Linked DNA regions of Homo sapiens: region 2 is linked to region 1. The links come from fine-mapping of genetic effects on plasma protein levels. A gene starts in region 1. The other region holds a variant in brackets. All regions are shown on one strand. Distances are between the middles of the regions.

Region 1 (6,630 bases):
ACACTGGAATTTCAGGCCCCTCCCTCCACCAGCCCCAAGCCCTGAACACAGCCTGGAGTAGAGGGGTGAGGGGCTTCTTCAGACTTGAGAACAAGTGGGTGGCTTGGGCTGGGGGGTGTTTGGAGTAAAGGCACAGAAGACCAGGCATCAGTGGCTCCGGCAAGGCCTGGTTACAGGGCTGAGCTCTCACAGCCCCTCCCAGCACCTCCATCTCTGGGTTTCAATCCAGGCAGGCGAGTGCTGCTCACCCAGCAGCCCCCCACCCGCCCCCACCCTGTGTGCCCCCCGCTGCCTCCCCCTTAGTGTAGGGCAGGGGTTGGTGGAGAAGGGCCAAGGCCGCTCAGAGCCCGAGGCCTTTGCCCCTCCCTCCACCAGGCTCCCTATTTTGCCCTCTGGACCCACTGATAACATCCCCTGGGGGAGGAGCTGGTCTCATGTCTGGGGCCCTCCCCAGCCCCCACCAGGACTGATTCTCTCGTTCACCTTCCTGGGTTCCTCAGTGGGGCTGGGGGAAGAGCAGCCCTCACTGCCCCCTGGCTGTGGGAGCAACTGGGAGGAACAAGGTCTGGTGAGGAGAGGGCACAGAGGAGTTCTGCGGGGAGTCGGTGGTCCAGGAGGGGCCGCTGACCCTTCTCGGGGCTGAGATGTCCCCTGGGCCCACAGTGAAGCCGCAGCAGGGATGGCAGGATGAGGGCGCCTGTCTTCCAGATGCTGACACCTTGGAGCCAGGACATCTTAGGCTTAAATGATGCCTTTGGCACGTAATAGGACCCAGGTCACAGAGATAACATCTCAGAGCCTCAATTTTCTGAGGATAAAATGGGGCTGGAATACTGATTGCCCAGAGTGGTGCTGAAAAGGAAATGAGATAGAGAAGTACAAAGCAGCGGGTCCATGGAGGGACTCACACCTCCCTCTCCCTCCTAACGCTGTGCCCTTCCCAGACAGCAGAGTCTGCAGGCAGAAGGAGCCTCTAACATAAAAAATAGAGCTCTGGCAGCAAGCTGTCCTCTCAGAAGTAACTAACACCACAGTATGAAATCAGAGGCCTGAGAAAGTGGCCCGGCTCTGCCCTCAGAATTCTTTATCGGTGGGTGAGACTTGGAATTCCTCTATTAGCGATCCATTCCTGGCTGGGCACAGTGGCTCATGCCTGTAATCCCAGCACTTTGGGAGGCTGGGACGGACGGATATCTGAGGCCAGGAGTTCGAGACCAGCCTGGGCAACATGGCGAAACCCAGTCTCTACTAAAAATACAAAAAATTAGCCGAGCATGGTGATGCACGCCTGTAGTCCCAGCTACTCAGGAGGCTGAGGCACGAGAATTGCTTGAACCCCGGAGGTGGAGGTTGCAGTGAGCAGAGATCGCACCATTGCACTCCAGTGACAGAGCTAGACTTGGTCTAAAAAAGAGAGAGAGAGAGAGAGAGAGAGATTCATTCCTTTGACTTAAGACTTTGTTTTCTGTTAAAATGCAAATAGAACCCTGTGAAGTAGACGTTAAGTCCATTTTATAGGTTAGAAACCTAAGGCTCTAAGGGCTCCAAGTGCACAGCCCATTAGTAGTAAGGCTGGGAACCTTAATCCAGGTCTTCACACACCCCAGGCAAATACCAGACGGCTTAGAGCACTGAGACCCCTATAGAGGCATCAGTCACACGCCCAGAACAAACCTGTCTCAAGTCTCCTGCAGACTTTGGTGGTGGGGTAGAAGGTGAAGAAGTGGTCACTGGAGGATTTGGTATTGGGGATGCCCTTTCCTCTTCTGCTGCGGCCTGCTCCATAGCCCCAGAGGCAAAGGCACAGTGGGGACCCAGATCCAGGCAGGGGCAGGCAACAAGGTCTATGGGCCCGGGTGTGCTAGAATGGGCTGGCGGGGTCCCGTGGCCCCAGACCCTCCAAGCCTTTCCATCTCTGCAGAGGGTCTGGAGGAGCCTGGCCTCTCTCTCCCGCATGGCAACGGACCCAGGGAGGTCAGGACATGTGGGTAGAGAGACCTGGCAGGGTGCTGAGCTAGATGTAGCACACCTCCAGGAAGCCTGGTACCTTGTCTCCTTCCAAGGGCTTGGTACCTGAGAATACCTGTGGCCCCTCACCAACAGTCCAACCTGCACCCCGGCAGGGGATCTCTTGGTGGCCAGCCTGCGCTGCCCCTCTCTCCCATCATGGCTCCCCTGGGATGAAGACTGCTCCAGGGAGAAGCCAGTGGTAGATGGGAGGAAGAGGGGATTTGACCATCCGGGGCCAAAAATGGTCCTCTGGGGTTGGGCTGTTTCACCTTGTGTCCAGGTGAGGTTTAGTACATGAGCCCCCATGCTCCATGCCCTTCCCACCAGGCTGGGCTGGGCAGCCCTGATTCAGACCTGTTGGCCAGAGGCCCTTGTTCATCACACATCATCATGCCGGAAGTTCCTCCTAGTATCTCACCCAGCTCCCTCCTATGGCAACAGGAGCTGTCCTTCAGTTCTGCCCGGGGGAGGGCCCCTTGAAGCATACGTGAGGCACATGTCCGTGTGACCTGCCTGTCCCTGGCTGGATCTGAGTTGTCTGCTCCTGACTCTGACCTCTGGACTGACCCCTGGTTTGATCCCTGTGTGGTTGGCCAGGAGGGGTGGCTGTAGCTAATGCTGAGCTATCAGCCTCATTGCCTCACCAATCATTAAGTCTGCCTGTTGCACAGATAAGGAGAGGCTTGGAGAGGCGATGTCTCCCTCGAGATCACACAGGCCTTTCATGCCCACTAAGATGGACGTCCCTGACTCACAGGACCAGGCCTGGCTGGAAGGCAGTCTGCTCTTCCCATCAGCTACTTGCACCCTCTAAGACTGAGCACAGGGGGCTCTCATTCTCTCCCTGCTCCCCAAAACAAATCCATCTACAGATTGATGCAAAACGTACCCTCAGACTTTGGGAAGTAAATACATTCATTAACAGGTCACGTCCCCGCCACGTTGAAAGGCAGCAGGTCCCCTCGCGAGCGTGGGTGCACGCATGGGCTGTGCCAGTCCCTTGGTTCTTAGTGATTTGCACACTTCTGTGAATCCACACACACTCTGGTGGATGCTCTCGGACATGCTCAAATGGTGCAGGCGCTCCCAGCATGGGTGCACCCAGGCGGGCGGGTGAGACAGAAGCGCCTCTGGACCTCTCACATGCTAGTGGCACCGGCTGCTAGGACTGTAAGTCCTGGAGGTCAAACTGCGGCTGAGGTGTCATTCGTGACTCAGTCTCCTCCTCCCCTCTGGCCTGGGGAAGGGACAGGGGCACTGAGTACTGACCTTTGCTCCCGCTGCAAGCTGGACTGTGCCTGATTCAGGAGCAGGGTTGGGACCGATGGGTTCCAGGGAGGTGAGCCTTGCAGGAGTAAGACGTGGCTAACATTTAGTGATCACTTTTCCTATGTGCCAGACATTGTTGCAAGCACTATAAGATCATCTCAGTGAATCCTCACAGCCTAGGAGGCAGGTACAATGGTTATGTCTCACCAAGGTAACTGAGGCTCAGAGAGGTTATGAGACTTGCCCAAGGACACACAGGCAGTACGTGTTGGAGCCTGGATGCCAAGCCAGGGAGTGGACTCCAGCATCTGACCCCAACAATCACGGAGAGATGGCACAGGCTGCATCAAAAAGGAGGCAGCATGGTAGCGTGGGGACCACTACAGGGCAGTGGGGACCCAGCAGAAGGGGTGCCAGAGTCAGGAGGTCATTTGACTGCCTTTGACCCTAGGAAACATTAAGCCACTTCTGGAAACTGAAAAAATGAACACAAAGCAAATTAGAGTTAGTACAATTGTGGTCTACTCTGATGGCGTTCATTTTTACAAATAAATGTAGCTCACTGTTGTCAGGCACTGCACTCACCGACAGGAGCCAATAGTGCAACGTGCCTGGATGTCACCTCATAGTCACTAGGAGTGGTGTGGTCCGGCAGAGGGACCCATGCTGACGTGGTGTGTCACCTTCTCAGTGGATGTTTGTGTGTGATTATGCATGCAGCCTCATTTAGAGATCCAATAGACATCTAAGTAGAAGACCTCCTGGGCACCACCACCATTGCCCTCCATCCCCCAATGGGAGGTCCCCTGAGAGCCTCAGGTCCCAAGATTCTGCTCAAGCCAGCTGCTCCTGCCCAGGGAGTGTGGCTGGGGGGCAAGAAGGGCAGGAGTCAGGCCTCAGGCTGGTCCCACCCATCACCCTGCCTCTGGCCCACCTGGCGCCCCTCAGAGGGCTGAGTCTCACTCTGCCACTCTCACTAGAGGAGGGAGCACTCTGCTACCCTCCCTGCTTTGCTCCAAATCAGGAACACAGTATGATTATTATACAGTATGATTATTATAATAACAGCAACTATTTTTCAGAGCTTACTCTGTGCCAGGAGCTCTATAGGCAGCCCTCTGTATCCTTGGTTTCTGTGTCCATGGATTCAACCAACCTTGGATTGAAAATAATTTTTTAGGCCGGGCGTGGTGGCTCACGCCTGTAATCTCAGCACTTTGGGAGGTTGAGGCGGGCGGATCACGAGGTCAGGAGATCGAGACCATCCTGGCTAACACGGCGAAACCCCATCTCTACTAAAAATACAAAAAAAAAAAAAAAAATTAGCCGGGCGTGGTGGCGGGCGCCTATGGTCCCAGCTACTTGGGAGGCTGAGGCAGGAGAATGGCGTGAACCCGGGAGGCAGAGCTTGCAGTGAGCCGAGATCGTGCCACTGCACTCCAGCCTGGGTGACAGAGCAAGACTCCATCTCAAAAAAAAAAAAAAAAAAAAAAATATATATATATATATATATATATTTTTTTTTTTAAATTGCATCTGTGGGCCGGGTGCAGTGGCTCATGCCTGTAAGCCCAGCATTTTAGGAGGCAGAGATTGGAGGATCACTTAAGGCCAGGAGTTGGAGACCAGCCTGAGCAACATAGCGACACCCCATCTCCATTAAAAACAATGTTTTAAAAAAATTGCATCTGGGCAGGGCGCAGTGGCTCACGCCTATAAGCCCAGCACTTTGGGAGGCCCACATGGGAGGATTGCTTGAGGCCAGGAGTTGGAGACCAGCCTGAGCAACATGGTGAAACCCCGTCTCTGCTGTAAATACACAAATTAGCTGGGCGTGGTGGTGGGTGCCTGTAATCCCAGCTACTCAGGAGGCTGAGGCAGGAGAATCACTTGAACCTGGGGGGCAGAGATTGCAGTGAGCTAAGATCGTGCCACTGCACTCCAGCCTGGGTGACAGAGTAAGACTCCATCTCAAAAAAAAAAAAAATTGCACCTGTACTAAACATATACAGACTTTTTTGGTGATTACCTCCTAAACAATACAGTATAACAACCATTCACACAGCATTTCCGTCGTATTAGGTATTATAAGTAATCTAGAGATTTAAAGTATGTGGGAGGCTGTGCTTAGGTTATATGCAAATACTATGCCATTTTATATCAAGGACTTGAACATCCATGGATTTTGGTATCTGCAGAGGGTCCTGGAATCAATTTCCCATGGAGACTGAGAGATGACCGTACTACCCACTTCGCAAGCAATGTCTTCTTTAATGTACTGAACCATCCCATTGTTCAGAGGAGAAACTGAAGCTCAGGGCTTTGAATAACTAGACCAAGGAGGCACAGCATGGGAGTGGGACATGAAGCACTCTACAATTAACCCTTTCAGGACAAGGCCCTGTCTCCCACACCCATCTGCCCAAAGGCTCTCCAGGGCCCCCTCCTCTTGGGTGTACCTTGACAAGAGACCTAGATTTTAGCTCACTATGCTGTCTGCAGTCCTGGATGGTCCCACTCCAGTGTCTGGTGCTCTGAGATGGAGTCAGCATTAGTGGCGGATGTGGAGACTGGGGGGACCTGTCTTCACTGGGGTAGACAGAGGAGATGTGGACTTTGCCCCCCATGAGCCCGGCACAAACCCAGAGCCGCCAGCAGGGCCTCGAGGCATCAGTCCCGGGCTCATGGGCTCCCTGAGGTGTTTCTCCTACTGTTTTCCGTTCCCCTCCTCCCTTCCATGCTGAGGTTGGTGGGGTGGGGGTGGGGGTGCCCACGCACGGAACAGCCACCACTTCTAACTATCGCCTGAGCCCTGATCTGCTGTCAGCTTCCACGTAGTCTCAGGGTCACAAAAGTCCAAGAGGCCTCTTGGGAATGTGTCACCTTCCAGCGTGGAGTCACACTGAGGAAGGAGGAGGGGAGGGCAGCCAGGGGGGTGGCGATAGGGAGAGAGTTTAAATGTCTGGCTGGCTCTGAGCTTCAGTCAGTTCCCACTGCAGCGCAGGTGAGCTCTCCTGAGGACCTCTCTGTCAGCTCCCCTGATTGTAGGGAGGATCCAGTGTGGCAAGAAACTCCTCCAGCCCAGCAAGCAGCTCAGGATGTTCCTGAAGGCCGTGGTCCTGACCCTGGCCCTGGTGGCTGTCGCCGGTGAGTAGAAGCTGTCTTTGGATGGCACTCCTGGGCTGCTGCTCTGAGTAGTGCAGGATGGAGGCTGAGCCAAAGCAAAAGGACACTTCTGAGTGCCCATCAGCCCCCAGCTGGACATGAGGTCTGCCTGGCTGCCAAGTGGCTCACAGGAGAGCTGGCCCAGTCCCAGTGGTGGGCCCATTGGCATTGGTGCTATACCAGTTT
Region 2 (17,172 bases), 20 kb after region 1:
ATTAGCCAAGTGTGGTGGTGCACACCTGTGGTCCAAGCTACTCGAGAGACTGAGGTGGGAGGATTGCTTGAGCCCAGGAGGTTGAGGCTGGGGTGAGTTGAGATCATGCCACTGCAGTCCAGCCTGGGCAACAGAGGAAGACCCTGTCTCAAGAAAAAAAAAAAAAAGAAGAAGAAGAAAAGAAAAAAATGCCACCACTTTAGTATTACTTTTATAACATAAAATTTACCATTTAAACTATTTATAGGTGTTCAAGTCAGTGGCATTAATTACATTTACAATGTTGTGCAACCACCGCCACCACTATTTCTGAAAATCTTTTCATCACCCCAAACAGAAAACTCTATCCATTAAGCAATTGTGAAAACTGCCGCTATGAATGGGGGTGTACACATATCTTTCCAGTCCTTGCTCTCAATTCTTCTGAGCAAATATCCAGAAGTGGAATTGCTGGGTCACACGGTAATTCTATATTTAAATTTTGGAGGAACCGCCAAACTGTTTTTTTATAGTAGTGGCACCATTTCACATTCCCACTGGTGACGCCCAGGGTTCCAATTTCTTCACAGCCTCTCCAACGCTTGTTGTTTTCTGTTATTTTTTGGTTTTGTTTTATTTTGTTTTTAACAATAGTCATCCTGAGAGTAGTACTTTTAAAACCAGAAATAAGTAAGAAAAGAAATATTCCCCAGAGCTTCTCCAGGCTACAGTCTATGCCACCAGGAAAGACTGAATCATTGAGACCCATAGGAGAGCGTGTGCTGGGAGGTCCCTGTGGGCACCAGGGAGGTGTGTTTGAACTCCAGCCCAGCCCACATTAGCTTACCCAACAGTCCCTCAGAGCCAGCACAATTTCAGGCCATTATCTCCCTGGTCACCACTGGCTCCTCAGGTGACTTGGAAGTAGATGACTCCTCTGTGGGCCTGGGTTAGTGCCTCAAAGGCATGCTGACCAGCACTGGTTTGGGCCAGGCTGAGATGCTAGCCACACTCCTATGCCCATCCCCAAGTTCAAAGGTCAGAAGTCCTCTGAGAACATCCAGGGTCACTACCCCTGAGGTCTCTGGTGTACTACGTGGCCCTGATTAGGGCAAAGGGAAGTGATCTGAGGGCCACTCTCTTCCTGTACATACAGGGCCTTGCTGCTCTTGAGGGATTGTCCTGGCAGGATCAAAAGCAGCTCCTGCATGGGGACGCCGTGTCCTCCTGCTGTTATCATAGTATGCCCTGTGCTCCCAGGAGGAGGCTGAGGTATGTCCTGGGGACAGAAACAACAAGCTTAGGGTTATTTGGGCACTCCCTTGTCTCCTGTCTGAGAGCGTGCAGGGTGGAGTCATGCTATCTTGCTGTGTGATGACAAGTAGCTGACAATGCAGGGGCACAATAAAAACCCCCGAATGGCCCACATCTGAGGAGCGAGGGTTTGGTGAGCTGCTGGTTCTGAGATAATGGATTGGTGATATGGGAACAAAAGACCTAGGACCTGGAATCATAAGATCACAGGGCATTAGGGTTGGAGGGAACAACCTTGTCTCTCAGCCCTAATTCCTTTGATATCATTTAAGGAATGATCTTAACTCTAGGCTAACAGCCCTCGAGCTCAGGCACACCATTTGTTTGTTCATCATTGTATTTGCAGGATGTGGTAGCTAGCCCTCACAATGGTGGCTGATGTGTGATCAATAGGCTATGTCATGGTATTTCACTTCTAAGTCTAGATCATAAAGGGCATTGTGGCACCTACCTTGATTTCTCTTGGATCACTCATTCTGAGGGAAGATAGCTGCCATGTTGGGAGGACGTGCAAGCAGCCCTGTGAAGAGGTCAACACAGGGGGGAACTGAAGCCCCTTCCAAACAGCTAGCACCAACTTGCCAGCCATGTAAAGTGATTCACCTTGGAAACAGATCCTCCAGCCTCAGCCAAGCCTTCAGATGCAACCTCATGACAGACTCTGAACCAGAAACACACAGCCAAGCTGCTGACCCACAGACTTTGTGAGAGATCATAAACATTTACTGTTGTTCTAAGACACTGTTTTAGGGTGCTTTGTTGTACAACAATAGCTTACTGAAAATACAGAGAGCCTAGCACAGTGCCTGCATGTGGTCATCACTCAATGGTTGAGCGAGTGAATCTTGCTTAGTATTGAACACTCCCACTGACAGCTAACTGTACCATCTCTCAAAACAATTCATTCTATCTTTGGGCAATTCTGTTAAAGATTATTAGAATTAAATTGGATCTTTCTCAATACAGCTTCCACATCTTGGTCTTATTTTTACTGCTCTTTCAAAAATCATTAAACTGGAATCTTTCTTAACATAGCTTCTACACTTTGATCTTACTTTTTTTCTCTTTCGAACCATAGAATAATTATTCCTTTATACATGCATTCTACGTACAGGAAATCTTCCCACAGACTCATTCATGGAACCCCAAACCATATGGAGAAAATTGAGCCAGAGATGTGTTATACTTCACAGCTGCCTTGGGTTGAAGAATCTTGGCTGGTTTCTGAAAGGGCAGAAGTCTTGTCTATGTTTATTCTTGAACAGTCAGTGCCTAGCATGATGACTAGAACTTAGTAGGTATTCAATAAATATTTGTTGACTGAATGAATTTAATAAATCTTTTTGTCTTGCTGAGTTGTATGAGATATATATATATTTTTATATTTATATGTATTTATATCTATATTTATATATAAATATATATATATCTCATACAACTCAGCAAGACAAAAAGATTTAAATATTTAATATATTTAAATATTTAATATATTTAATATATTTATATTATTTAAAATTATATTATTTAAAATATTTAATATATTTATATTAAATCCCAAAGTGCTGGGATTACAGGCGTGAGCCACTGCGCCCGGCGTGGATCCTCTCATTTTCTTATCTTTGTTCTTACTTCAATCTCTACATGCTCTCCCTTTCTGAACTATTTCTTTACTCTCTATTCAGTTTTTATTTCTACTATCTTTTTTTTAATTTCTAAGAGTTTTTGTTATTGTTATTCTGTGAAGGTCTTTTTATACTATCCTGTTCTTGTTTAATCAATGTAATCTTTTCATTCTCTGATGTTATTAATGGCATTTTTCAATGTTCTTCTTTCTGTATATTCTCAGTTTTCTCTAACTTCCTTTTTAAATATTTGTTTGTTTTGGGTCTCTATCTTTCATGTTAGAATCTTTCCTCAAATGACTGGTAATCCTTGGTTGCTTAAGTTTAAGAGTGGGAGATTTGGGCTGGGAGCGGTGGCTCACGCCTGTAATCCCAGCACTTTGGGAGGCCAAGGTGGGTGGATCACGAGGTCAGGAGATCGAGACCATCCTGGCTAACATGGTGAAACTCTGTCTCTACTAAATATGCAAAAAATTAGCCAGGCGTGGTGGCAGGTGCCTGTAGTCCCAGTTACTCAGGAGGCTGAGGCAGGAGAATGGCGTGAACCCGGGAGGCAGAGCTTGCAGTGAGCCGAGATCGCACCACTGCACTCCAGCCTGGGTGACAGAGCGAGACTCTGTCTCAAAAAGAAAAAAGAAAAGAATGGGAGATTTTAAAGGTGATTTGAAGCTCCAATACGTGCGTAGTACTTATTGACTATGAATGTCACTGCAGGGTGATCCACTGAGATGTTTAGCTGGGGAACCCCATTGTGAAAATCTTTGGGTCTTACCTCTTGAGCTGGACATATTCCCCTAAGAAATGTCTTTCACTCTTCTGCCTGGAGGGTAAAGGCCTGAATACAGTGTCCCTGGGGCCAAGTGGAAGAAGCAGGAGGGTGATTCAGCATTTCAGAGGGTATACTTTGATTTAATCCTCTTGCTAGTACAGGTCTCCTGCCCTCAACTCTGCCTGACGTTCAAGAGAATAAACTTCCAGTCTTCTACTAAGGTGAGACAGGGAAGCTAAAGCTCTAACTGCTCCTTAAATAGTTTCAACCAATCTTTCATGTTTTATGACAGCCTCCTCCGTCACCTCTACTTTCAGTAGAAACTGGTGTCCCAATTCAGGACAGTCATATATGGCTGTGCAAGCTGTGCACTGTATCATTCTGAGGCCACCTCCCTCACAGGGTAGACATGACAGATTTGTATATTTATCATGTCAAATTTCTGGCAGACGGCTGTAGAGTGTCTTGAGAAAGGGGAGGCTGTTTCTATTGCACACACAGGTGCAGCGTGGGCTGGCAGGAGCCCTACTATCATCTCTTCGCCTTTTGAGAATCCAGCGGTGTAAGTCAGGCTGGAACTCATCTTTTCTCACTGCCAGCTCATGACCAGCATTCCCAAGGCCGGCTAAATCAGTCACAACTGGTCCATTTGCTTTCTAACATCCAAAATTGTGCTGTGGTCTTTTCTTCCTTTTCCCGATCCCGTCTCTTTTTTTTTTTTTTTTTTTTTTGTTTTTTGAGACAGGGTCTCACTCTGTCGCCCAGGCTGGAGTTCAGTGGCACAATCAGGGCTCACGGCAGCTTCTACCTCCCAGGCTCAAGTGATCCTCACACCTCAGCCCCCTGAGTAGCTGGAACTACAGGTCTGCCATGCCTGGCTGATTTTTTGTATTTTTTCAGTAGAGACAGGGTTTCGCCATGTTGCCCAGGCTAGTCTCAAACTCCTGGACTCAAGCGATCTGCCCACCTTGGCCTCCCAAAGTGCTAGGATTACAGGCATAAGCCACAGTGCCTGGCTACATCTTTTCCCAAACATTTCTTCATTATAGTTTCAGGAGGATTTCAGGAAAAAAAAGTGAAATTAGATGCATGCATTCAATCTTCAATGTTTGTCTGGAAGTCTATACAAGTAGCATTGACAGAAGATTGCTGAAAGCTTTATGGTACATTCATTCCTTTGGAGTCTAAGCCATTGGTTCCAACCTCCCCAGGAAGTCTCCAGTGTTATGGAAAAGGGTTTGTGAACAGGAATGTACTTGGACAGAAAATGTTCTTCCCTTCAAAAATGTATCTTAAGGCCAGGTGAGGTGGCTCACGCCTGTAATCCCAGCACTTTGGGAGGCCGAGGCAGGCGATTGCCTGAGGTCAGGAGTTGGCGACCAGCCTGGCCAACATGGCGAAACTCTGTCTCTACTAAAAATACAAAATTAGCTGGGCTTGGTGGCTTGTGCCTGTATCCCAGCTACTTAAGAGGCTGAGGCAGGAGAATTGTTTGAACCTGGGAGGTGGAGGTTGCAGTAAGCCGAGATTGTGCCACTGCACTCTTGCCTGGGTGACAGAGCAAGACTCCGTCTCAAAAATAAATAAATAAATACACAAATAATAAGAAAAAAATTATCTTAAGAAAATGATCATGGAATGCATGCATTTAGCTATGTGGATGTTCATCACAGTGTTGTTTATAATAAAAAATTAAAACAAGCCAGGCACGGTGGCTCATGCCTGTAATTCCAGGACTTTGGGAGGCTGCGGTGGGCGGGTCACTTGAGGTCAGTAGTTCAAGAGCCTGGCAAACATGGTGAAACCCTGTCTCGCGTGTGACAGTCTCTACTAAAAATACAAAAATTAGCCAGGCATGGTGGTTCATGCCTGTAGTCCCAGCTATTCAGGAAGCTGAATCAGGAGAATGGCTTGAACCTCAGGAGGTGAAGGCTGCAGTGAGCCAAGATTGCACCACTGCACTCCAGCCTTGGTGACGGAATGAGACTCCATTTCAAGAAAAAATAAAAAATAAAAATAAAAGAAAGAAGGAAAAAAAATATGTAATTGACTGAATCCCTCTCTTCGCGGGTTTTCACGAAACCCAAAACCAATGGTGAAGATCTGGCAACCTTGTCATCTGTTAGTGCTTCTATGATTGTGCTCTTCATCGGGTCATGATTTTCTGCGATTATTTCTATTTTCCCCATCCTGTGGTCCTCTCTGCAAGCCCCTCTCTTTTATTACCATTTCAATTTTCATTTTCTGTAGCCTCAAATCTTTGGTGATGAAGAGGAGTACATATAAACAAAACCCAAACAAATAATAATGAAAATCTTTATCTGGAGTTGGCACACCATCACTATGTTGACTCAGAATGTGTTCGGTACATTTTGTGGCACTCAAGTCCACGTCACTGGTCCCACCCAGCTGTTGCACCACCGGCAGGCATTTTTGACACAAACATCTAGCAGTGGGGCATTTCTCGACCTGATGGATCATGGTCTGCGCAGGGTAAACAGGTTGTAGTGGCAAGCCTGAGGACCCGAGGACCTGCTGTCCTGGCTATCACTCAGAACTGGTTCTGCCTATGCAGGAGACAGGAGAAGAGGGAAACTGAGGGGGTTATGTTCGTGCTGAGACAAGGCATGGTGGGACAAGGAACGAGAGGTGATGACTTGGCAGCTGTGCCTCGGCTTGGCTGTTCTTTCCCTGGCTGGCCTTGAGTTACTGTTCTTGTACCCAGATCAGTTAACACATGGACCTGGTACCCCTATATTCCATCAGGCCTCTTTCTCCCAAATCCTAAACCCCCTGGGGTAAGGGGAAGAGCACCTGGCTTTTTACTTAGGACGGTGTTTTCTCCCAGTAGTTAAGTGTTGAGGCTCTTTGTGGTATGGGTCTGGTCTTAGGAGCAAAGTCCTCTCTTTGCTCCCAAGCAGGAGACAGTGTACTGAGCATGGACTTTGGAGTTAGATAGACCTGGAATTGGCCCAGGGCAAGACCTTGGGCAAGAATCTCTCTGAACTCCAGTTTCTCTGTAAATAAAATGAGGATAACAATTCCTACCTTAGAGTATTGACTTGAGCGTTACAGATAAGAAAGGTAAATACTGGGCACAAGGTAGGTCCATAGAGAGCTCATTGTCATTAAATCTTTTCAAACCCAACTGGGCCAGATTCTGGAAGGCAGAGAGCCTTGTGGGCGTGCCCAGGCTGCTTCCCACCCCAACGCGCTAGCCACACTGAGCCCTGCATCATTTCCCCAACCCACTAGATGAGGGTTTGTGTCTTATTCTCTCCAAGATGTGGCAGGGTGCCTGGCACACAATATGTGTCCCACCTCTCTGAGTCCCAACCAGGTTGGCCTCAGTGCCAATTGCTGCCTTCATCAGCTTTAGAGATGTGCGATGCATCATTGATCTCTCTTCTGAACCCGCCATGCCTCACACTTCTGTCAGCCCTGGTCATAGCCCAAAACATAAGGCTCTCTAGCAAGGTCACGGCCTCCCACCCCACTCTTCTTCCTGCATTGTTCTTTGCTTATTCTCTCTATCCAACATCCCGAGAACTATTCCCTCCCAGTTTTCCCACTGCCTCTGGAACACACTCCTCTGCATCTTCAGCCTTCCTAGGTGCCTCCTTCCACTTCCTGTCCTCAACTGGGCTTGGCCTTGGCTCAGGCTGCCCTGCTCCCTGGCTTCCCCTCGGTCCTCCTGCATGGAGGCTGCTGACTCTCAGGTGGGGATGCTGTTCTTTCCATATCAAGTTTGCTGACTTGTTCTTATATTTTTTTTCTGTGATTCCATCAGTTTGAGGAAATGGTATTAAAATCTCCTACCAAATTTGTCAAGTTCTCTTTGGGACTCAGTGGCTTTTTGCTTTACGTATTTTGAGACTATGTTGTCAGGTTCAGAATTGTTTTATCTTCCCAGTGAATTTATTCTTCTTCTTCTTTTTTCTTTTTTTTTGAGACAGAGTCTTATTCTGTCACCCAGGCTGGAGTGCAGTGGTGCGATCTCAGTTCACTGCAACCTCTGCCTCCCCGGTTCAAATGATTTTCCTGCCTCAGCCTCCTGAGTAGCTGGGACTACAGGCATGCACCACCACACCCGGATAATTTTTTGTATTTTTAGTAGAGACAGGGTTTCACCACTTTGGTCAGGCTGGTCTCAAACTCCTGACCTTGTGATCCATCCCCCTGCCCCGGCCTCCCAAAGCGCTGGGATTACAGGTGTGAGCCACCACGCCCAGCCAAATTTCTTCTTTGATCATTAAATAATGATCTGCTTTATCCCTATCAATCCTATCTATCCCTATCAATCCAAATAAGCAAAGCTTATTTGTTCTGATGTTACATTGCATACCTGCTTTCTTTTGATTACTATTGGTCTGGTATGTCTTCTTAAATTCCTTCCCTGGCTCCACTTTTTAACCTTTCTCTGACATTATATTTTAGGTATGCCTCTTATAAATTGCAAATAAGTAGAGTTTTTATAAAATCCAATCTGAAAACAACAACAATAGTAAACTGATGTAGCACCTACTGTGTCAAGCATGTTTGTGTGCTTTTTAACCTACAGTAATAAAGCATTATTTCCCACAAGCCCTATGAGGCAAGTATTATCATTATTCCCCTTTTACAGAGTTTGAGGCTGGGTGCAGTGGCTCATGCCTGTAATCCCAGCACTTTGGGAGGCCAAGGCGGGAGGATCACTTGAGCTCAGGAGTCTGAGACCAGCCTAGGCAATATAGTGAGACCCAATCGCTACAAAAAATTTAAAAATTAGCTTGGCAGGGTGGCACATGTCTGTGTTCCCAGGGACTCAGGAGACTGAGGTGAGAGGATC[G/C]CGTGGGCCCAGGAGGTGGAGGCTGCAGTAAGTTGTGATTGGTGATTGCACCACTGCACCCAGCCTGAGTGACAGAGTGAGACTCTGTCTCAAAAAAAAAAACGAAAGAAAGAAAACAAAAGAAAGAAATGGAATCACAGAGAAGTTAATTTGCCAAAGGTCACAGAACCAATAAGTGGCAGGACTTCGACCCAGCGGACTAGTCCCAGAGACAATGCCTTGTGGGCTCACTTAATCTATTTAATTTGATAGTGATTACTGTTTTATTTATGTCATATTATTTTGTATTTTCATTTTACTATGATATTTCTTTGCTTCTTGTATCTTCCTGCTTGCTTCTCTGTTGGTTTTGTGTTCCTTTAAAGACTAATTTCACACCTTTTAAAAAATTCAGTTAAAAAGTTCAAACTGCACATAAAGAGTCAAACAGAGCCAGGTGTGGTGACTTATGTCTGTAACCCCAGCACTTTGGGAGGTCGAGACAGGGGGATCACTTGAGGCCAGGGGTTTGAGAGCAGCCCGGGCTACATAGCAAGGCTTCATCTCTCCAAAAAATTGTTTTTTAAAAAAGAGTCAAACAGATCTACAAGTTAGTTTAAAATAGCAGCAGTATCTCAACCCCCACCTCTATTTTTCACTCTACAAAAACAACTACTGTCAACTGTTTTTTTGTTTCGTTTTGTTTTGTTTTTTTTTGAGACAGAGTCTCACTCTGTCACCCAGCCTGGAGTGCAGTGGTACAATCTTAGCTCACTGCAACCTCTGCCTCTCAGGTTCAAGCGATTCTTCTGCCTCAGCCTCCCATGTAGCTAGGATTACAGGCATGTGCCACCATGCCCGGCTAATTTTTGTATTTTAAGTAGAGACAGGGTTTTACCATGTTGGCCAGGTTGGTCTCGAACTCCTGACCTCAGGTGATCCACCCTCCTCGGCCTCCCAAAGTGCTAGGATTATAGGCCACCGTGCCCGTCTGACATTGCCTCTTTAGAAAGAAGTGCAGTTCATCTTCACTGATGAGGGAGCTTTTCTTCATAGAATAACATCAGCTGAAATATATAAAAGAAATAGTAGAATTAGAACATTCTCATTCTGCAACTCTTCTAATGTAATAATTAATTCAGGCAAAAATCTTGAATGTATGCTATGTTCATCAGGTTGCCAAGGTATTTTAAGATGCCAAAGTATCCCAATTCTGTTACTTGTTAATTACAAAGGGAAATAACCTATCTTTCCAACCAAGAGGTCTGCTAGTGACCACCTCACGAAGTGAAAAAACTAAGGATTGCTATTAGTGGGACAAGTAGCCATTGTGTACCTCCTGATATGACATCATGTGAACTTCTCACTTCACCTTTAAGTATTCTTAGCCAGGCACAGTGGCACATGCTTGAAATCCCAGCACTTTGGGAGGCTGAGGCAGGGGGATCGCTTGAGGCCAGGATTTCAAGACCAGCCTGAGCAACATGTCAAGACCCCCACCTCTACAAAAAATTAAAAAGTTAGCCAGGTGTGGTGGTCATGCCTGTAGCCCCAGCTACTTAGGAGGCTGAGGTGGGAGGATCACTTGAGCCCAGGAGTTTGAGGCTGCAGTGAGCTATGATCACACCACTGCACTCCAGCTGGATGACAGAGCAAGACCCTGTCTCAAAAAACAAAACAAAACAAAAAACACCGAAAAAACCCCACAGTAAATTAGAAGAAAGCTGCATAAATTAGAAGAAGCTGATGTGAAATCCTGAGTCCATGGTTCAATTTAGGAGGGACCATCTGGAGAGCAGGGAACCCCCAAAAGTCAGTTTCTTTAGGCCTATTTCCTTGGGCCAGCCAAATTTCTCAGGGAGAATGTTGTTCCATTTTCAATATGGGGAAAGATGGTGAACTGAGGAGTCTTTTAAAAAAATTTATTTTTGAGATGGGGTCTCATTCTGTCGCCCAGGCTAGAGAGCAGTAGCATGATCATGGCTCACTGCGGTCTCTAACTCGTGGGCTCAAGTAATCCTTCTGCCTCAGCCTCCTGAGTAGCTAGGACCACAGGTGCCACCATACCTGGCTAATTTTTGTATTCTTTGCAGAGACTGGGTCTCGCTACATTGCCCAGGCTGGTATCGAACTCCTGGGCTCAAGCGATCCTCCTGCCTTGCCTTCTCAAAGTGTTGGGATTACAGGCATGAGCCACTGTGCCCAGCCTCAAAATTTAATGTATAAAGTTTTCCTTAATTTTTCTTAGCACAAAAACCCTGGCCCCCAACAATACCTAGTTTTCTCCAGGCCGGAGTCCCACTCTTTTACCCTTTTCAGAGAGAATAAGCATCTGGTTTTCTGCTGCTTTGGGGGTACCCAGCCAAGTAGAGTTGAAGAGAACAGCTGCTTCTCAAACAGACTCTCGACCAACTGCCATATTTCTAGTCCCACTGCCACCCACTCTTCCAGAAGAATGTTGACACTAATGTCAGAGCATTTGGAGAGTTTAGTAGTGAAAATCAGGGGCCTTCTTGGCTTTCTCCACTGCTGCTTCAAAATTCATGTCAGGTGTGCCTGTCACCACCGTTTGATCATTTGGAAGCTTTCCAGCTTCCCAAATGTTGTTATTTTTGTCTCCTTTTCTATTTTCCCTTTGGGTTTATGCATTTTGTAAAAAGTGCACTTCAATGCCACGTTATTGAGATTTCAGAGAACAGCAGAGGCTAATGCATGCAATTAATCCACCGTCCGTTACTAGAAGTCAATCGGATGCTCTTTAGTCTCTCTTCCCCATATACTAGTTTAAAAGTTATCCATTCTTTCTATTCGTTTTATGGGTTATCCTTAAAATTTTAATATTCTTGTCTGACCTAACAAAGTCTATAGATAATCAATATCCCTATCTTCCTCCCGAATAATGCAAAGGCTGCTGAATGCTTTCACTTTGATCTCTCCTTTCCCATTTCCAGGTTGCTTCGGTCTGATATTTTAGTTCCTCATTACTTTTAACACCTCCTCCAAAGTAGTCCCTTCATCAATAGATGTTTTTGAGCCCTCCCTACCATGTGATAAGCACTGGTCTAGGCACTGGGAGTACAGTAGGAAATGAGATAAACTTGGCCAGGTGTAGGGTGGCTTACACCTGTAATCCCAACACTTTTGAGGCCGAGGCGGGCAGCTCGCTTGAGCCCATGAGTTCGAGACCAGCCTGGGAAACATAGCGAGACCCCCGTCCCTACAAAAAAATATAAAAATTAGCTGGGCATGGTGGTGTATGCCTGTGGTCCTAGCTACTCAGAAGACTGAGGTGGGAGGATCATCTGAGCCCAGGGTGGTCGAGGCTGCAGTGATTACACCACTGCACTCCATCCTGGGCAACGGTGAGACCCTGTCTCAAAAAACAAACAAACAAACAAGCAAACAAAACCCCCACAAACTAAACTATGTGTAAATACATTTTTGTTAGGTAGAACTATATGAAATTGCCACTATTTGACCAATTTTTAGTGAAAACTAGTCTCATAAGTGTGTGTGTGTGTATTTTCACTAATGTTTTTTGGATTTACCTAAACGTTTACTAATTTCATTGCTCCCCATGTCTCCTTCTATCCTATTCCTTTTTTCTGGGTTCTGTTTCCTTTTCAGATTTTTAGTAGTTCTTTTCAGTGAGGATCTGTGAGTGGTAAACTCTCTTTCTCTGAAATTAACTTCTTCCTCTCAAATAATAGTTCACCTGAGTATAAGTCTTGGTTGGCCATTAATTTCCTTTCAGTCTTTAGAAGGTACATTGATGATAAATCAGTTGCCGGTTTAATCATGCTTCGTGTGTAGATCATTAGTCTTTCTCTTTGGTTGATTTTAAGATATCCATTGCCTTCAGTGTTCTGCAGATTCCTGCGATGTGTCCTCATTTGGTTGTGTGTTAATTTTTCCTACCAAGACTCAGGATGCTTCCTGTACCTGAGGATTCCGGTCACATCTTGCTTCAATGTTTGAAATTTCTCAGCCATCATCTTTTGAATATTGCCTCTTCCACAGTCCCTGTGTTCTCTTCGTGGAAATCCTACAGGCATATATTGGACCTCCCATTCTGTCCTCCATGTCTCTTACCGTCTATTCATACCCTCCTTTTTATATTTAATTTTTTTGAGACAGAGTTTTGCTCTGTGGCCCAGGACGGAGTGCAATTGCATGATCTTGGCTCACGGCAAACTCTGCCTCCCAGGTTCAAGCTATTCTCCTGCCTCAGTCTCCCAAGTAGCTGGGATTACAGGCATGCACCACCACGCCCGGCTAATTTTTGTATTTTTAGTAGAGACGGGGTTTCACCATATTGGCCAGGCTGGTCTGAAACTCCTGACCTCAGGTGATCCACCCACCTCGGCCTCCCAAAGTGCTGGGATTATAGGCATGAGCCACCATGCCTGGCCAATATCACCCGCCTCGGCCTCCCAAAGTGCTGGGATTACAGGCATGAGCCACCGTGCCTGGTCAATATCCTCCTTTTTATTTCTGTGATTCTTTCTGTGTGATTTTCTCAGATCTACCTTCTAGCTTACTAATTCTCTCTCCAACTGTAGCTAAATGTGTTTTATATTATAATGACTATATTTTTTTCACTTATAGATGTTCTATTTAATTCTCTTTCTTTTTGACAAATAGAACTTATTTCAAAACAAACAAAAGGCCAGGCATGGTGGTTCATGCCTGTAATCCCAGTGCTTTGGGAGGCTGAGGCAGGAGGATTGCTTGAGCCCAGGAGTTCAAGGCCAGCCTGGGCAACATAGTGAGATCCTTTCTCTACCAAAAAAATAAAAAATCAGCTGGGTGTTGTGGGACACTCCTGTAGTCCCAGAAACTACAGATTCTTGGGAGGCAGAGGCTGGAGGATTGCTTGAGGCAGAGGCTGGAGGATTGCTTGAGCCTGGGAGGTTGAGGCTGCAGTGAACTGTGATCATGCCACTGCACTCTAGCCTGGGTGACAAAGTGAGATCCTGTCTCAAAAACAAATAAACAAACAAGCAAAGAAACAAAAAAATGCTTACACAGGTTACTACTTTCTTGCTGGGATAGTTTTAACACTGCGTTAAGCATAAACACCTTTCTTTCTGAAATGTATTTGAGATGTATATTGATTTTTAAAAAACCCACACCTCCATTAAGGTCTGGTGATAGCAGTAGAAACAATGTAGAGTGGCTCCACAATCATATAGATGTTTTTGGTGCGTTCTGAGATGGAGTCCAGGAACACCAAGTAAAGACTGCTACCTCACAGTTTACATCTGAGTTCTTAGAAGACAAGACTGAAGGAGAACAATTTGTAACAAGATTTACTTGGCCCGGGTGTGGTGGCTCACACCTGTAATCCCAGTACTTTGGGAGCTTTGGGAGTCCGAAGTGGGTGGATCACCTGAGGTCAGGAGTTCAAGACCAGCCTGGCCAACATGGAATAACCCCCATCTCTACTAAAAATACAAAAATTAGCCAGGCACGGTGGCACACGCCTGTAATCCCAGCTACTCAGGAGGCTGAGGCAGGAGAATCGCTTGAACCCAAGTGACTGGGTTGCCGAGAGCCGAGATCACAGCACTGTACTCCAGCCACCCTGGGTGACAGAGTGAGACTCTGCCAAAAAAAAAAAAAAAAAAAAAAAAATACTTACTGTTCAGAAGGAGAAGTCATAATGTTGCTTTAAAGAACAGGTCACAAAAGAAAGACTCTAGAAGATCTTCTCACTTGGTGCATATCAAGTGTCTATTTGAGACCCATACACTTGCTTAATCCATGTGTTTAAGGCAAAAGTGCTGCTGCTGAGCAGTAAGGAATAAGGTACCTGCTAACCTTTACCAATCTACATTTTAAAATCCTTCTTACTACACATCCAGAATGAGTCAGCAATTCTTGTGTATTAAAAAACAAAAACACAAAACAAAATAGAGGGGCAACTCTCTTAAAAATGCAGCTATCCGCAAACACTGTGATACAAAACGACAGTCAAGGAAAGGGCAGCACAAACAAGTTCACCTGGAAGGAATCTGTTCAAAGTCTCTGGATTTAAGAACAAGTTCCCTAAAAGCTCTTACTTACAGAAGAAATCGGATAATAAATGTAGCTGGAATGATGGAATTCTTTAAGTTTTCATTTTGTTTTGGGCAACTCTGTGGCCCAGGCTGGAGTGCAGTGGCTTGATCACGGCTCACTGCAGCCTCAACCTCCCAGGCTCTGGTGATCCTCCCACCTCAGCCTCCTGAGTGGCTGGGACTACAAGCATGTGTGCCACCATGCTAGGCTAATTTTTGTATTTTATTTTTAGTTTTTTTTTTTTTTTTTTTTTTTTTTTTGTAGAGACAGGTTTTGCCATGTTGCCAAGGCTGGTCTCAAATTCCTGGGTTCAAGTGATCCTCTCATCTCAGCCTTCCAAAGAGCTGGGATTACAGGCATGAGCTACTGCACCTGGCCTAGAATTTTTTAAAAATCACTATCTGGCAACTCTCAGGATAATATTCGATTCAGGCAAGGATCATCAATGAATGCTAAAACCATTGGGTGAAAAATTGTTGCAGAATGGGATGCTCACATGGCTTCAAAGTATTGCTCCACAAATTACTTATCAATAACGTAAAAAACCAAACTTTACTAGCCATGGAGAAATCTGGTTGTTATCACTTTAACGGAGTGATCAAACTTAACATCACTAAATAGAGTGCAACCTCCAGCTAGGATACAGTAAGAATGGCCAGATATCACCTAGTATTTTTGCCAAAAATGTTTAACCTTAATCTAATCATGAGAAAGTAATCACTCAAATCCAGAATGTGGGACATTTTACAAGATGTCCTCCTTGCACTCTTCCAAAAAAAAATCAATGTCATGAAAACAAACAAATGGTGGGGTTGGGGAGAACGGTTCTAAATTTAAAAACTAAAGTGGGATAACAACCAGATGAGATGTGTTAGAGCTTGAATTTACAGAGAGAGAAAAACAACTATGAAAGCATTTTGGGGAAAATCTGAATATGTAGGATATGTTAGATGATATTAAGGAATTGTGTTAATTTTCAAAGGTATGATAATGTTTTTTTCTTTTGTAAAAGAGTCCTTATTTTTCACAATGTATGTTGAAGTATTCAGAGTGAAGTGTCATGTTGGCTATAATTATTTCAAATGGTTCCACACACAAAGCACATACCACATACACATATACATATACCTCCAACCAACTCAAAACATGTTCAACACTGAAACTATAAGATGCCACCAAACAGGGAAGCATGAGTGTGTGTTGCATCTACCCATTGTATCAATCCAGGTTCAGTCAGAAAAACAAAAGCCATTCCACGTATTTCAAGTATGAAAGGCTTTAAAACAAAAAATTAAAGGTTTATCCAACTCTTGGAAGGGCTGGAGGAGTGACCACCTTGGTTTGCAGTTCAGAAGGAGTGACTCTCAAACGCTCATTAGTAAGTGGCTACAAATGGGAAGCTCGCCTTATTATGCCTGCAATATCAATGCATGTGATTCCTGGGAAGGTCACCCAGAAGCTGCTTTAAACTCCAAGCCTGTCCATGCTTCTGTCTGCAACCGGCATTGAAACATAATGGCCTCTCCTCTTCCGTCTCACGCTGGCTGACTCTAACCTAGGCTCATATAGAGAAGGGATTCTAGAAAATGTATTAATAGTTCCAAGTGTCCCCTCTGCATCTCATAAAAGACCTTAGAAAGGGCACTGATAATGCTATTTGCAAAAAGACAATCCAGCGCAGTTGTATTTTACAGCACAGGCTCTTTAAGTTTGGGTTATCAGCAAAAAACCATTAGAGTATGAGAAATTCCTTTTTAAATTGTGGCAAAATATACATAACATAAAAATTACCATTGTAGCTATTGTACATTGTAGCTAAGTATATAGCCCAGTAGCACTAAATACATTTACACTGTTGTGCACCACTATCTAGCTCCAGAAACTTTTAATCTTCCCAAACAGAAACTTGTACCTATTAACCAATACCTTCTCCTTCCTCACTTCTCCTAGAAACCAGAATTATACTTTCTGTCTCTACAAATCTGACTATTCTGGATACCTCAGAATCACAGTATGTGTCGTTCTACGACTGGCTTGTTTCACTTAGCATCATGTCTTCAAGGGTCATCCACGTTATAGCATGTGTCAGATTTCCTTTTCTTTTCTTTTCTTTTTTTTTTTTTTTGAGACACAGTCTCGCTCTGTCACCCAGGCTGGAGGGCAGTAGCACAATCTCAGTTCACTGCAGCCTCTGCCTTCCAGGTTCAAGCAATTCTCGTGCCTCAGCCTCCCAAGTAGCTGGAATGACAGGCATGCACCACCACACCTGGCTAATTTTTGTATTTTTAGTAGAGACGGGGTTTTACCATATTGGCCAGGCTGGTCTTGCACTTCCGGCCTCAAGTGATCTGCCCGTCTCGGCCTCCCAAAGTGCTGGGATTACAGGCGTGAGCCACTATGCCTGGCCCCCGATTGTCATTATTTAAGGCTAAGTGATATTTTGTTGTCTGTATATACCACATTTTGTTTATTCATTCATCTGTCAATGGACATTTGGGTTGTTTCCACCCCCTGGTTATTGTGGATAATACTACTAGGAACACGAGCATACAAATATCTGCTCCAGTCCCTGCTTTTATCTTTTGGATATATGCCCAGAGGTGGAATTGCTGGGTCAT

Which allele goes with the higher level. Positions count from the first base shown, and alleles are read on the strand shown. Strength reflects both the effect of a copy and how common the allele is.
As copies of C replace G in region 2, the plasma level of the protein whose gene starts at base 6,265 in region 1 goes up (moderate association).

The links. A credible set is the group of variants that fine-mapping cannot tell apart. PIP is the chance, under the fine-mapping model, that this variant and not a neighbour inherited with it causes the effect. The UK Biobank Pharma Proteomics Project read protein levels with antibody pairs (Olink). The fine-mapping took linkage between variants from a reference panel, not from the people measured, so its PIPs are less certain.
Region 2: its variant is the best candidate, but not a certain one, in a credible set for the plasma level of the APOA4 protein (UK Biobank, PIP 0.68).

The regions. Positions count from the first base shown.
Region 1 is chr11:116,822,939-116,829,568 of GRCh38, reverse strand. It overlaps APOA4 (apolipoprotein A4), which reads left to right and starts at 6,265. Exons shown (of 3, transcript NM_000482.4): 1 at 6,265-6,426. The coding sequence starts at 6,378. RefSeq lists enhancers at 1-142, 3,762-4,056, 3,911-4,277.
Region 2 is chr11:116,797,995-116,815,166 of GRCh38, reverse strand. LNC-RHL1 (lncRNA regulator of hepatic lineages 1) reads left to right here and starts at 985. Exons shown (of 2, transcript XR_007062898.1): 1 at 985-1,251; 2 at 1,714-2,258. The variant G/C (reference allele first, on the strand shown) is at 8,513.